2 linked regions of the Homo sapiens genome follow. The protein of the gene in region 2 interacts with the protein of the main gene of each other region in a pairwise test. Each region holds a gene or a part of one and is shown on either strand. Other genes may lie near its edges.

Region 1 (7,873 bases), on a different chromosome or scaffold from region 2:
AGACCGTGCCACTGCACTCCAGCCTGGGCGACAGAGCGAGACTCCGTCTCAAAAAAAAAAAAAAAAAAAAGAACCTAACAGGGTGCTAAAAAAGGCTAAGATTTGCCTGGCACGGTGGCTCATGCCTGTAATCCCAGCACTTTGGGAGGCCGAGGGGGGCAGATCACGAGGTCAGGAGATCAAGACCATCCTGGCCAACATGGTGAAACCCCATCTCTACTAAAAATACAAAAATGAGCTGGGCGTGATGGCGCGTGCTTGTAATCCCAGCTACTTGGGAGGCTGAGGCAGAAGAATTGCTTGAACCCAGGAGGTAGAGGTTGCAGTGAGCCAAGATCACGCCACAAAAAAAAAAAAAAGGCTAAGATAGGGAAACTTTCAAGCAGCAACTCTCTAAAGATTACTTTCAGTATAAAAATTTATGATTATGACCTTCAGCCAAAGTCCATTTACTGCAATAGCTGCCACAAATAAGAAAGGCATCAATATAAAAGCCTTCCCAATCTAGAAGTGTCTTATTAAATCAGCACTAGTATGAACAGATGCTCTTCCACTGTTTACAAGAGGCAGAGACTTTGAATTCATTTTTTTCCCAATAGAAAACAACTCACCTGTGAAGGCGGATATCCTGGAACCTGCCCCCTAAGAGGGGGTGCTTCAGTCTGACAGTCCTGCTGGGGATAGATCCAACGAGAGACTGGAGTTGGGCTGTTGCCAGATGAACGGTAAGTACTTGGAACTTCTGTGGAGTAACTGGTCTGAGTATAACCAGGTGCATAATAAGCCCCTGAGTATGAGGCAGTATTTGCCCCAGGGCCTGGGGGGTATGTTGGACCATACGCTCCATTTGTATAAGAATTCAAACTCTGAAAAAAACCAAGTTGAGTGAAAAAAAGATGAATTAGTAGAAGAGCTGAAATGCCCTGACTTAATGCCTAAACTTGAAAACTTTGAGAAGATGTTAATCACTAATGCAGGCCAGGCACAGTGGCTCATGCCTGTAATCCCAGCACTTTGGGAGCCCAAGGTGGGAGAATCATTTGAGGTCAGGAGTTTGAGACCAGCCTGGACAACATAGTGAGACCCTGTTTCTACAAAAATAAAATAAAATAATTAGCCAGGCATTGCCAGGCACAGTGGCTCAAGCCTGTAATCCTAGCACTTTGGGAGGCCGAGGCGGGTGGGTCACCTGAGGTCAGGAGTTCTAGACCAGCCTGGCCAAAATGGTGAAACCCCATCTCTACTAAAAATACAAAAATTAACCGGGCATGGTGGCAGGCGCCTGTAATCCCAGCTACTCGGGGGGCTGACGCAGGAGAATCGCTTGAACCCAGGAGGCGGAGGTTGCAGTGAGCCAAGATCGTGCCATCGCACTCCAGCCTGGGGGACAAGAGTAAGACTTCATCTCAAAAAAAAAAAAAAAAAAAAAATTATCTAGGCCTCATGGCACACATCTGTAGTCCAAGCTACTCAGGAGGCTGAGGTGAGAGGATTGCTTGAGCCCAGGAGGTCAAGGCTGCAGTGAGTCATGGTTGTACCACTGCACTCCAGCCTGGGCAACAGAGTGAGACTCTGTCTCAGAAAGTATAAGAAAACAAAAAAATTATTTAAAAAGACTATAGAGACAGACCTAGCTCTGCCATAGGCTTTGTATTTAACCTTCCCTAACTTCAGTTTCTCCATCAGGAAAATGAAGATCATAAACGTATCTTTGAGGATTACTGTCAAAATTAAATAAGATGACATATATAAAAGGTTTAGCATAGTGTCTGGCATATAGTATGCTCAATAAATGGTAATTATTTGTATTATGACTGTTGTTAGTATTATCATGGCTGGGTCATGACATGAACCCAGATCTGACTCTGAAGTCCAGTTCTTTGTATTACACCATCACTCTGCATCCCAAATGATACCAACAACAAACTCCTCATATATTGCTCACTGTAGTTTTAAATAACCTATTCAGACTCTTATCCACACCCAGAATCCTCAGTTTAATAATCCAAACAAGATTCAAGCTAGGCAGGCGCACAGGCTCATGCCTGTAATCCCAGCACTTTGGGAGGCTGAGAAGGGAGGATCACTTTTTTTTTTTTTTTTAAGATGGAGTCTTGCTCTGTCACCCAGGCTGGAGTGCAGTAGCAAGATCTTGGCTCACTGCAACCTCCACCCCCCAGATTCAAGCGATTCTCCTGCCTCAGCCTCCCAAGTAGCTGGGATTACAGGCATGCTATAATTTTTGTACTTTTAGTAGAGATGGGATTTCACCATCTTGGCCAGGCTGGTCTCGAACTCCTGACCTCATATCCACCCGCCTCAGCCTCCCAAAGTGCTGGGATTACAGGCATGAGCTACTGCATCCAGCCTAGGAGGGAGGATCACTTGAGCTCAGGAGTTACAGACCAGCCTCAGGAATATAGTCAAACCCCATCTATTTAAAAAAAAAAAAAAAAGTAATTTTTAAAAAAAGATTCAAGCTTAATGCTAAATTTAAATGATCACCTCAACGTGTTCTATTAATTTCTACTTTACCCTTTAAAAACAGTGAAAACACAGAATCCAGTTTTCCTATACTCATCTCTATCTCGAAGACTATATAATCTTTCCCACTTTAGGTATGAGGATACCCATGACCAAAGAATTCCATGCAGGATGAGGTATAATAAACAGTCAGCAATGCATTCCCTGAGCAGAAGACCATGAACCACCACTATGTTAAAACTACTAAGAGGCTGTTAAGGTCTTCGGGCATAAACAAAGAACTCCGTAATACATCACACACACAATTGGAGACTTAATAAAACATTATGTGACTTTTTGTACTGTTATTCAACTTCTAGAAATCCTAAGGAAATGATTCAACTAGAGAAAAAGTTATAGACATGAAGTTCTTCATCGCAGCATTATTTACAATCACACAAAATTGTAAACTACCTAAATGTCCTATAACAATGGAATCTTTAAGTAGATTAAAGACTATTCATTGAAAAAATTGTATTCAGTCTTCAAATTTTATTGTTATGGCTAGGCGCACAGACTCATGCCTGTAAAAATCCCAGCGTTTTGGGAAGCCAAGGTGGGAGGATTGCTTGAGCCCAGGAGTCTGAGAACAGCCTGTGCAAACAGCAAGACCTCATCTCTACAAAAAAAAAAAAAAAAAAAAAAAAAAAAATTAATTAGCTGGGCGTGGTATGGCACAGCTATAGTCCTTAGCTACACAGGAGGCTGAGGCAGGAGGATCGTTTGAGCCTAGGAGTTCAATGTTACAGTGAGCTATAATCAAGCCACTGTTCTCTAGCCTGGGTGACAGTAAGACCCTGTCTTCAACTAGCTAACTAACTAAATAAATATTTTACTGTTAGAACTGACCAGATATTTAATGATATGAAATAATTATTTTTAAGGTTGTTTTTTTCCTTTTAAGTTTTAATTTTTAATTAAAAATGTTTAAAAACATTGTGGTTATGTTTTTAAAACTTCCTTATATTTTAAAGAAACATACTTAGGTATTTATAAGTGATAAAATGATATCTGAAATTGCTTCAAAATACTCCAAGGAAATACTCCAAGAATAAATACACGACGGCCATGTACTGATAACCCATTGAAACCAATAGATGGGTTCATGTTACTTTAGTGTGTGATTCTCATTGCTTTTATGTGGCTTTTGTTGTTTATTTTTTTTCTTTTTCCCTTCTCACAGGCGTTGTTTTTGTTTTTTTTTTCGTTGTTGTTGTTTTTCTTTAAATAGAAATGAGGTCACGCTATGTTGCCAGGCTAGTCTCAAACTTTTAGGCTGAAGTGATCCTGGCACCTCAGCCTCCCAAAGTGCTGGGATTATACCATGCCTGGCCATTACTTTTTTTCTCCCCAAGACACCCAGGGTAGAATGCAGTGGCACAATCACGGCTCACTGCAGCCTCAAACTCCGGGCTCAAGCAATCCTCCCACCTTAGCATCCTAAGTAACTGGGACCACAGGCATGCACCACCATGCCTGGCTAATTTTTGTATTTTTTGTAGAGACAGGGTTTGGCCATGTTGCCCAGGCTGATCTCGAACTCCTGGGCTCAAGCAATCCACTCGCCTCAGCTTCCCAAAGTGCTGGGATTACAGGTGTGAGCCACCACATCTGGCCAGCCATTACTTTTGATGCTTGAAAATTTCCTTGATTCCTGGAATTACTTCCTGGTTTTGAGATGCCTTCATGAGTTCATTGCTTCTTTTCCCAAATAACCACTGTCCTGACAGATCACAAAGCTGTCACATGCATGTTTACAAAAGAACACAGAATCAGATTATATAACAGCCTTGCAGTTGCTAAAGATGTTTGTTAAGGATGAGCTAAAGATCCTATTTCAGAAACGTGGCAAAGTTTTTAAGTCTTTGTCTGAAAAGCAGCTTGTGTGAAAGTTGCCAATGCCAAGATGGAGTCACTTACATCAGACCCAAAATGGAGGGGGAGGTCACGAAGGAGGGGATCTCATGCACACATGTCTGCGATAAGTATTATCACAAGGACTTTTTTTTTTTTTTTTTTTGAGACAGGGTCTCACTCTGTCACCCAGGCTAGAGTACAGTGGCACCATCATAGCTCACTGCAGCCTAGATCTCCCAGGCTCAAGTTATCCTCCTGCCTCAGCCTCCCAAGTAGCTTGGACTACAGGTATGAGCCACTGCACCCAGCCTATATCACAGGGCTTTCTAAAAACTCACAAAAAATCCCTGTAGGCCCTACTCATCTTGCTTGTCCTACATATGTCTGTAACAGGACTTATCACAAAAAATTCCTCAACCAGGCACGGTGGCTCACACCTGTAATCTGAGCACTTTGGGAGGCCAAGGTGGGCGGATCACGAGGTCAGGAGATCGAGACCATCCTGGCTAACACGGTGAAACCCTGTCTCTACTAAAAATACAAAAAAATTAGCTGGGCGTGGTGGCAGGCGACTGTAGTCCCAGCTACTCAGGAGGCTGAGGCAGGAGAATGGCGTGAACTCGGGAGGCGGAGCTTGCAGTGAGCCAAGATCGTGCCATGGCACTCCAGCCTGGGCGACAGAGTGAAACTCTGTCCAAAAAAAGAAAAAAAAAAAATTCCTCAAGACTGCAGTTTCACATAAGCCATCTTCATAAGAACACTCGCTTAGCAATGAGTTTCCAGTAACATCAGCTCCTACAACAGGCCCCTGTGACCAATGATGTTTGTCTCAAAACAGCTTATATGGACTTCTCCTCTTTCCCTTTAAAAGTTTCCCCTTACTACAACTTCTCCAGATATGTAGGGGATGATTATCTATGGTATGCGCATCTGAAATTGTAATTCTCTGTTTATTTCCAAACAGATTCATTTCTTTGAAGAGTCCTTCTCTCTGTTGTTATTTTAGGTTGACACTTGGAGCACAGCAAAGAAAATACAGGAGTTCCTTGCACCATTTAGAGTCATAAGACGGAATCCAAAAAGGAAGAAAATGCTTCTAGGACTTCAGAACAGATTTCTGTTACATATTAAAGTATGTCATAAAAATGAAGGACTTGGCCAGGCGTGGTAGCTCATTCTTGTAATTCTAGCACTTTGGGAGACCAAGGCAGGTGGATCGCTTGAGGTCAGGAGTTCCAGACCAGCCTGGGCAACAAAGTGAGACCCCATCTCTACAAAAAATACAAAAATTAGCCAGGTGTAGTGGCGTATGCCTAAGGTCCCAGCCACTCAAGCAGTTAAGGTGGGAGGATCACCTGAGCCAGAGGAGATTGAGGCTGCAGTGAGCTGTGATCATGCCATTGCACTCCAGCCTGAGAAACAGAAAAAAAAAAAAAAAGGGGGCCGAGCACAGTGGCTCATGCCTGTAATCCTAGCACTTTGGAAGGCCAAGGCAGGTGGACTGCTTAAACTCAAAGAGTTTAAGATAAGCGGGGGCAACCCCCTCTCTACAAAAAATACAAAAATTAGCTGGGAATGGTGGCATGTGCCTGTAGTCCCAGCTACTCAGGAGGCTGCAGTGGGAGGATCGCTTGAGCCCAGGAGGTGGAGGTTGCAGTAAGCCAATATCATACCACTGTACTCCAGCCTGGGTGACAGAGGGAGACCTGGTCTCAAAAAAAGAAAGAAAAGAAAAGGAAAAAGAAGGACTTAAGAACAAAGCAGAAGCAACTCAACCGAGTTTGAATAATACTGAGAAAACCTCACGAACTTTATTAACAGTTGGGTGAGACAATATCTTCTGCTTCCAGAGATACAGCCTGAGATTGTGAACTTCCGTGCTGTTCACACCCTACTCCATGAATCGCCCTCCATGCTCCTCTCAAGAGTCCACACTATTAGTTAAAGAATGAAGTTCTGAAAAATGAGGAAGGCTTTAGTTCAAATGCTGCCCTAATACTTGCATAGCACATAAACTGCACCTGGCACATGGCAGGCTAATCAACTTGGAAGATTGGTCAGACACCTTAGCAACATTAACAGCTTCTTAAAAAAAAAAAAAAAAAAAAAAAAAAAAATATATATATATATATATATATATATATATATATATATATATATATAAATTCCACACTCAGAATAAATGCATGAAATTACATATTCTTGGCTTATTATAGCTACTTTTGAATGAGAATTTTTAAGATTTATAAAACCAACCAAACAGAAGAATGACCATGTGGCAAGGCTAACCCAAGGAGGTAGCCGGAAGGTAAAGACATGATACTGCTTAATTTTTTAAAAAGGAAACCAGTCATATCTATATACCACTATAGGAGTCTATCTTGGATAGAAGCTAGACCAAGTGCAATGGCTCACGCCTGTAATCCCAACACTTTGGGATGCTGAGGTAGAAGGATCACCTGAGCCCAGGAGTTCAAGACCAGCCTAGGCAACATAATGAGACCCCATCTCTGCAAAATATTTAAAAATTAAACCAGGTGTGGTTGCACGCACCTGTACCTAGGACACTGAGACAGGAGGATCACTTAAGTCCAGGAGTTCAAGGTTACAGTGATCTATGATTATGCCACTACAATGAACTGGGTGGTAGAGCAAGACTATCTATCTCAAGAAACAAACAAAAAAAAGATGATGATAAATGTATAATCCCCATGTGATGTTTCGCCAGAAAATACACATGTGCTCACCTCAAAAAGGTGTATGTCTAGACACCTTTGGGTTATTTTAAATCCAACAACTTGTATGTTGTATCTAAAAACATTTGCACATTATTACTGTTGCTTTTAAAAAGTTACTACTAAATTATAAGTTAATCTTTTTTGAACCTACATATGAATGTAATAAATACTTTTACCTAAGGGGGAAAATGTTATGAGAAAAAGCAATCTTTATCAGTAAGATCAGTGAAATCAGAAAAATTAACATTAACTTATAATTCATGACTATGAGTTTTGTCTCCCTCTTACATTAACTATAAAAGTACACATGCTACTCTCCAAACTGATCTATGATGCAATCTCAATAAAAATCTCAGCTGCCTGGCCAGGCATGGTGGCTCATGCCTGTAATCCCAGCACTTTGGGAGGCCAAGGCAAGCGGATCACCTGAGGTCCGGAGTTCGAGACCAGCCTGACCAACATGGAGAAACCCCATCTGTACTAAAAATACAAAATTAGCCGGGCGTGGTGGCGCATGCCTGTAATCCCAGCTACTCCAGAGGCTGAGACAGGAGAATGGCTTGAACTCGGGAGGTGGAGGTTGCTGTGAGCCAAGATCGTGCCATTGCACTCCAGCCTAGGCAACAAGAGCAAAACTCCAGCTCAAAAAAAAAAAGAAAAAAAGAAAATCTCAGCTGCCTTTTTTACATAAGTTGAAAAGCTGATCCTAAAATTCATATGAAAATGTAAGCAACCCAGAATAGCCGAAACCATAT
Region 2 (7,873 bases):
AATTTATTTCAAATAAGATTATAATCAGCCTATCAACAAATGAGGCAATATGTAAAAGTGATTAACTGAACTAATAAATTTTTTTATGCTTAGGTCCAGTAAGTCCCAAGACTTTTAGAGAGAATGCAGTATGGTAAAACTGAAATAATACCTCTCAAGAAGACAGATACTTGGGTTCTAGAGGATCCACTCACAATCAACAAGTCTCGATTTCCATAGTCCTTAGATCCCTCAAATATAAATTAGGAAAATTATTTTACCTGCCTGAAGTTGAGACCAAACTAAATAATCTCTTGAATAGTATGATTCTATAAGTGACTGAAAGTGCAATCTTGCTTCTGAAATTTGAGCTACTGTCAAAAGCGCTCAGCAACATTGTGAACTGAGCATATGGCCTTAACTCCAGGGTGCATGGGTAGGCTGGGGTAAAGAAAAGACAGAAAAATTAAAAGCCCAGGCCCGTGCCACTTATGGGAGTGGGGCCTGAGTTTATGCAACCCATGCAGAATGAAAATTCCAAGGTGAAAAAATAGTATGAACTCAAATATCTATAAGAATTAATGAACACTAAAGATAATACTTCAAGTATTAGGAAAAAGGGATTATTCCCCTGTTGGGGAAACATGTTGGGACAACTAGATAACCTTCTGTTAAAAAACACAACCCCTTGGGAGGCCAAGGCGGGTAGATCACGAGGTCAGGAGTTTGAGACCAACCTGGCCAAGATGGTGAAACCCTGTCTCTTATACTAAAAATATAAAAATTAGCCGGGCACGGTGGTGGGCGCCTGTAATCCCGGTTACTCAAGAGGCTGAGGCAGGAGAATCGCTTGAACCCGGGATACGCAGGTTGCAGTGAGCCGAGATGGCGCCACTGCACTCTAGCCTGGGTGACAGAGCAAGATTCCTTCTCAAAAACAAACAAACACCCACCACCCCACCAAATTTGGACTCTAATTTCACATCTTAAAGCAAAATCAATTTCAAATGGAACTAAAAAACTGAGACCACAGAAGTACTAAAAAAACTACAGATTTTTAAAAACAATTTTAAGTGCATAAAGTCTTTAAATATAATACATAACTTAGCAGCTATAAAAGAAAAGATAAATTTGAATACATAAAACCAAAACTTTGTGTGGTTCAAAAAAACACCATAAATAAGTAAAAGGACAAACTAGAAAAAATATTTGCGGCAAAGGCTGATTTACTTTATAAAGAACACCTAAAATCTGTACGATCAATATGATGATTGAAAAACTGCAGCAGGGCTGGGCGCAGTGGCTCATGCCTGTAATCTCAGCACTTTGGGAGGCTGAGGTGGGCGGATTGCCCGAGGTCAGGAGTTCGAGACCAGACTGACCAACATGGAGAAACCCCGTCTCTACTAAAAATACAAAATTAGCTGGGTGTCGTGGCGCATGCCTGCAATCCCAGCTACTCGGGAGGCTGAGGCAGGAGAATCGCTTGAACCCAGCAGGCAGAGGTTGCAGTGAGCCGAGATTGCATCATTGCACTCCAGCCTGGGCAACAAGAGTGAAACTCTGTCTCAAAAAAAAAAAAAGAGAAAAACTGTGGCAAAGGATATATGAATAAACAATTTGTAGAAAAGGCATCATAAATGACTCAACTTTTTAAAAAGAAGTCCAACCTCATTAAGTAAATGAGAAATGTAAATTTAAACAAATATTGAGATACCATTTTAACCTCTCAAGAGTGACAAAGACCAAGAAGCTTAATACCACGTTTTTGGCAAGAAGTGAGAAACAGGCATTTTCATCAAGTGTAAATTGGTCCAACCTCTCTGAAGGGCAGTTTAGAAACAAGAATCCAAATTAAAAATATCCATACCCCAAGCCTCGGTAATTTTATTTCCAGGAATTTACTTTATAATCATAATTTTACACACATGTGTAAAATGACATGTACATATTTATTGCAGCATCATGCAATAACAGGAGACTGAAAACAAATGTTAACAGTGGACTGTTAAATTATGACTTATTCATAAAATAGAATATTATGCATGTATTCAAAAGAATAAGATGGCTCTCTATACTGATGTCAAAGGCTCTTGTGATATTAAAATATTGTGAAGGGTATGCATAGTATACTATAATTAGTGTGGGGGGAAAGGAAGATATCCACATGCTTGTACTTGCACCCAAAATAGCTCTAGAACAATACGTAGACTGGTGCTTTGCTGCTATGGAAGGGAACATGGTGGCTGGGACTAGTTGTGGGAAGTAGACTTATTTTTCACTGTATATCCTTTTGAATTTTCTATTTTGAGCATGTATTACTTAATTTAAAAAATCATTGTTTTAACTTACGTGAGGCCCTATTTTGCAACATACCCAAAGCACTTTACCTCTTTCACAACTTAGGGCTCATGGAATTTTACAGGAAATACTCCAAAATTAAAAAAAGTAACTACTGAAGATAATAAGTTCACAATAAAAAATATAAACTACATGAAGAAACAAACCATCATGGAGGAGTGGGCACATATAACAGATACAGAAGCAGATTAAAGAACTAAAGTAAATTTGCTTAAAATTATTAAGAAATGGTACAAAAGGAAAGATTAAGAGACATTAAGAATAGAATGAAAACCTAATGTATATCTATTAACAGTTCCAGAGGAAGGAACAGAGATAATGGAAGAGGCAATAAGTAACAGCAAATTTTCTGGGAAAAAAAAAAAAAAAAAAAAAAGGACAATATATCCACAGACTTGAGTAGAGTTTGGTACATGGTAAATAAAATCAAATCCATACCTGGACAAATCCTAGTAAAATAGCAAAACCCCAAAGACAAAAAGATCTCAACTACAACCAAAAGGAAGAAAAAGATTAATAAAAGTAAAGAGAAACTACAAGCCGACTCCTCACCAACAAGTGGAAGACAGTGGCATAACGCTACTCAAGAGTTGAGGTATAATAAGGTCAATTTACATTTTTTTTTGAGACAGGGTCTTGCTCTGTCACCCAGGTTGAGTGCAGTGGTGTTATCAAGGCTCATTGATCTTCTGGGCTCAAGCGATCTTAATACCTCAGACTCTTGAGTAGCTGGGGCCACAGGTGCATGTCACTATGCCTAGCTAATTTTTTATATTTTTGTAAGAGACAGAGTCTCGCCATATTGCCCAGGCTAGTCTTGAACTGCTGGGCTCAAGCAGTCCTCCCACCTTGGTCTCCCAAAAATGGTAGGATTATAGGCATGAGCCACTGCGCCTGGCCCAATCTACAATTTTATATTCTAAACCCAAACTATTATTCCTGAGTGAGGAAAAATAAAAAATTTTTTCCTGCCAGTGAAAAACTATAGGACACACCTCACTAAAATAAAAAGTGAACCCCAAAGAAATGAGATGCAAGAAACAACAGTGAATTAAAAAAATGATAACCATGTTAGTAAATTTAAACAAGGACTATATTAAAAAGATAATAATTTCATCAATTTTGGGGTGGAGTTTGAAAAAACAAAGTGAAGCTAAAGTCTAATAGTGATACTGTGGAAAACAGGATGGGGGAGGAATCAGAGTTAAAGCTTTCTAACCAGGGCCTCAACATATGACTATGTACAACGCAGGGGATACTATCCATATTTGTAGTCATGGCAGTTTTGCTTATTTATTAAGAAATAATCTGTCAAATGTCAGTAAAGTATCTTAAAGAGGCAGCTTTTTCAAATTGACACTAAAATGATGTTTGGCTAAAATTCTTATATTGTTCAGAAGCATAGGATAGTCATCTATAGCAAAAACTTAAGGAAATCACTAAAAGGATAGAAATAGAATACATCCAAATCAGTAGAGGAGAGAAAATGGAAGAAATAAAAAAATCAATCAGAGAAGGAAAAATAGTGGGAAAAGAGGCAAAGAAAAGTAAGGTGAAGAGAAATCACAAAATAAGATGATAGAAATAAACCTAAATATACCCGTAATCACAAAACATATACACTAATTAAGCTATTAAAGGACATAGTGCTAATATTAAATGAAAAAATCCAGCTATATGTCATTAATGTGAGAAAAATAAAACAACACAGATTGACTAAAAGGGATGGAAAATGAAATATTGTGTTAATACTAATCAGATAAAGGCTGAAGTAAAATCTGAAAATCAACAGTGTTAAAGAGGTTTCTAGTATGATCAGTTCTAGATCTACTGCTAGATGGCTTTGCTCGGTATAGAAAGCATAGTAACAATCTCACTTCAGAACATTCTCATACCCAATCTTTGTATGGCTGGCTCTGTTAGGTTTTTGCTTAAATGTCGAGCCCTTTTTCTCGAGAATCTAACATAAAAAAGGTAACCTTGCTTAGCCACTTAATCTAAATAAAGTCCTTTGTTACCCTCTATTCCCATTCTATTAATTTCTTTTATAGCATATTACAGATTATAATTACATACTGAAATCCTTGTTTACTGCCTCTCTTCCTTAATAGACTATTAACTCCATGAGGATAGGAACACATCTGTTTTGAAGACTCAGTTAACTCCATTTCTCATCTCTTAAGCTTTTACTGTAATGAAATCCAGGGAAGTCTTCCTCAGTATTTAAAAATGGAGCTGAAATCCTATTATTAAAGATCCTGAGACTGGATATAGGCTCCAAAAGAATACAGGAGTTATACAGTCATGTCTGTCTTGGGTGCACAGGGAAAGGAGTGGTCTATGTCAGAGTGTTGAAAAAACAATTAAAAGAACTTGAATGGCTAATTCCAGATGTTATTAAATCTACTCCTTTCTTCCACCCTGAATAACAGCTTCTGGTTTCAAGCTATCCTTTTATAATATGCTTTAGGATTTAACACAAATACGATTCCCTCAAAGATTAAAAACAACGGGATGATGTTGAATTCAGAGCCAACTAAGTAGTTATAATAGAAATAACTAGTAGAAATTTGAGCAGAATATAAAAAATCATCAGAAAACCTAGCTAATCCTTTTATCTTACTGGTAGGTAATAGATGCATATGGGCATTAGCCCAAACAACAAAGCCAGTTGGCTTCAAAGCAAGAAGCTGGGATGAGAGGTGGGCAGTGGCAACTTTAGGACATCCATGAAGAAATAGGTAAGATTGGGTCCAGTTTTTATGATGCAACTCTGCAAACACAGAGTTTCCAATTCTGCAAACTAAAGTGTTAAATAAAAGTGAACAAATTGAAGATAAAGTTTAAAATGGAGGAAAAACACTTCAAGGTACATGTGTTCTTTTCCCCAACCTCCTAAATATTAGGCATCTCATGGGGTTCTTCTTACGTGACTTTTTTCTTTCAGTGGAATTTAAAAGGTAAGTTGGAAAAAATATAGCTTTGGTATATGTCAAAGAATACTCCACCTGGAATAAGGGAGCAGCAGTATTGCAAGGTTCAACAACGCAAAATAAACTATCAAAAAGTCAAGTGTATAATTTTTTGCCATTCCAAAAAAATAAAAGCACTGTTTTGGTAAAGTTCCATTGCAGTAATATTAAATAAAATTGTTAAAAATTATACTAGCTGTTTGAGTCTTCAAAACTTATGATTCTGTAAACATGTGAAACTGAATAGACTATGTTGTAATACAATGGGAAGGATTGAAGCTATGAAAATCTGGATTTAATTTTTAGTGTTGCCACCTACTAGATATGTGGCTTTGGGCAATCTCATAGGGCTGTTTGAAAATTAGCGATACTAAGCTCAATAAATGGAGTTTCCTCCTTCTCCTCCTCTGACCTTTAGAATCAGTGTTGTTTTCAACAACTCTCTGGGAAGACAGAAATACTCTAAGAGGTGCCTTGTTAGTGCAGTAGGTGGCACGCCAGTCTCACAATATGAAAATATACAAAGTGCACTGTCCAAAATGGTAGCCATGGTGGGCTCAGCACTTTATATGTGGCTAGTGTTACTAAGGAACTCAATTTTTAATTATATCTAATTTTAATTAATTTACTTTTAATTAGCCACCTGGGGCCACCATTTTGGGCAGTATAACATAAAGCCATAAAAGCATTTTTTTTTTTTTTTTGAGACAGAGTCTCGTTCTGTCATCCAGGCTGGAGTGCAATGGCGAGATCTCAGCTCACTGCAACCTCCACCTCCTAGGTTCAAGTGATTCTCTTGCCTCAGCCTCCCCAGTAGCTGGGATTACAGGCACCCACCATCAAGCTCAGCTAATTTTTTTTTGTATTTTTGTAGAAACAGGGTTTGGCCATGTTGGCCAGGCTGGTCCCGAACTCCTGACCTCAGGTGATCTGCCCGCCTTGGTCTCTCAAAGTGCTGGGATTAAGGCATGAGCCACCGTGCCTGGCCTTTATTTTTTTATTTTTATTTTTTTTTTTTTAGTAGAGATGGGGTTTCACCATGTTGGACAGTCTGGTCTCAAACTCCTGACCTCAAGTGATCCGCTTGCCTCAGCCTCCCAAAGTGCTGGGATTACACGCGTGAGCCACCGTGCCTGGCCGAAAGGCATGTTTTTTTTGAGGCTTTAAATCCTTGGATTTATGGGAACCAGGGAAGAGTATAAAGAAAAACAACAGTAAGATTCTCTACAAGTTTATCACAGGATGCAGTTTACTAGAAATAGTATAGATAAGCTGTGTGGTAATATCCATCTGGATTTATTAGACATACATGTAATCCAAGCCAATTTACCTAAAATACCTAGACCTCAGACTCCCCACCTGTAGAGCAGGAATACTTACCAACTTCACTGAGGAATTATGGAGATAAAAAAATTAATGGATCTGATATTGTGGGTGCTTAACGAATCTGGTTTTCTTTCTCCTCCTGTATTCAGTTTTTTACATGACCAAACTTTCCTCACCTGCTGGCCAAGTGCCTGATCTGTTACTAAATTTAATATTGGCAAATACAGTTAATGCCAACTGTTTGCCAAAATGTGTATACTCCACCAAATTACACTGTCAATATTTAATTAAGAGCCTGAACTTTAAAAATGTATGACTAAAAATAAACACATGTTTAGCATTATGGAAAAATCTCACAAAATTTAATCCTAAAACCATTATTGTGAAATTAGGGTAGATATTGGCTAGGCATAGAAACTAACAATTACTGCTTCTGAATTATTCTGCTACAAAACTGCTTAATTTATGAGGATGAAAATAAAAATTAAAAGCAAAACTGAACTTGTATCTGTTTTATAGCCAGAAATTTGGCTTTAAGATTTTTTGAAAAGTACTACTTATTACATTTTCTATTAATATGCAATATCAACATATTCTAAGCCCATAAAATGATCTGGCTTTCTTTAAGGTTCCTTTCAATAATAAAATATTCAAATATCTGTTATGTTGTTGATCAACTGTAGAATACTAACTGTATATCACTCTTAGGCTGTTCAACAGAACCTAGGAACTGGCAGAAACTAATCTAAAACTGACTTCTCCATTGTAATCTCAAGAGCCTCCCTCAGTGCACATACCATAAAAAAGCAATCTACCACCTATGACTCTTAATTTTTAATTTTTTTTTATACCGAGTCTCTCTCTGTCGCCCAGGCTGGAGTGCAATGGCGCAATCTCGGCTCACTGCAACCCCCACCTCCCGGGTTCCAGCAACTCTCCCTGCCTCCGCCTCCCGAGTAGCTGGGATTACAGGCACCCGCCACCACGTCTAGCTGATTTTCTTGTATTTTTAGTAGAGACGAGGTTTTGTTATATTGGCCAGGCTGGTTTCGAACTCCTGACCTCTGGTGATCCACCCGCCTCGGCCTCCCAAAGCACTGGGATTACAGGCATGAACCACCACGCCTGGCTTTAATTTTTAATTTCTATCACAGAACAAACGTTTGCCACTGGAGGCTGCCAAACTGTTTCTATGACTGTCTCTCTTAGCTATTTTCAGATACTGCCAAGGCATA

Evidence for each region. Proteins that work in one complex are often made in the same cells at the same time.
Region 1: the proteins of PGRMC2 (region 2) and BAG4 interact in binary tests that used the Homo sapiens proteins (3 or more experiments, as listed by UniProt).

What each region holds. Positions count from the first base shown.
Region 1 is NC_000008.11:38,200,505-38,208,377, reverse strand, and holds part of BAG4 (BAG family molecular chaperone regulator 4), read right to left. Parts: intron 867-7,873; coding exon 612-866; intron 1-611. UniProt on the Homo sapiens protein: Inhibits the chaperone activity of HSP70/HSC70 by promoting substrate release. Prevents constitutive TNFRSF1A signaling. Negative regulator of PRKN translocation to damaged mitochondria.
Region 2 is NC_000004.12:128,277,660-128,285,532, forward strand, and holds part of PGRMC2 (membrane-associated progesterone receptor component 2), read right to left. Parts: intron 1-7,873. UniProt on the Homo sapiens protein: Required for the maintenance of uterine histoarchitecture and normal female reproductive lifespan. May serve as a universal non-classical progesterone receptor in the uterus.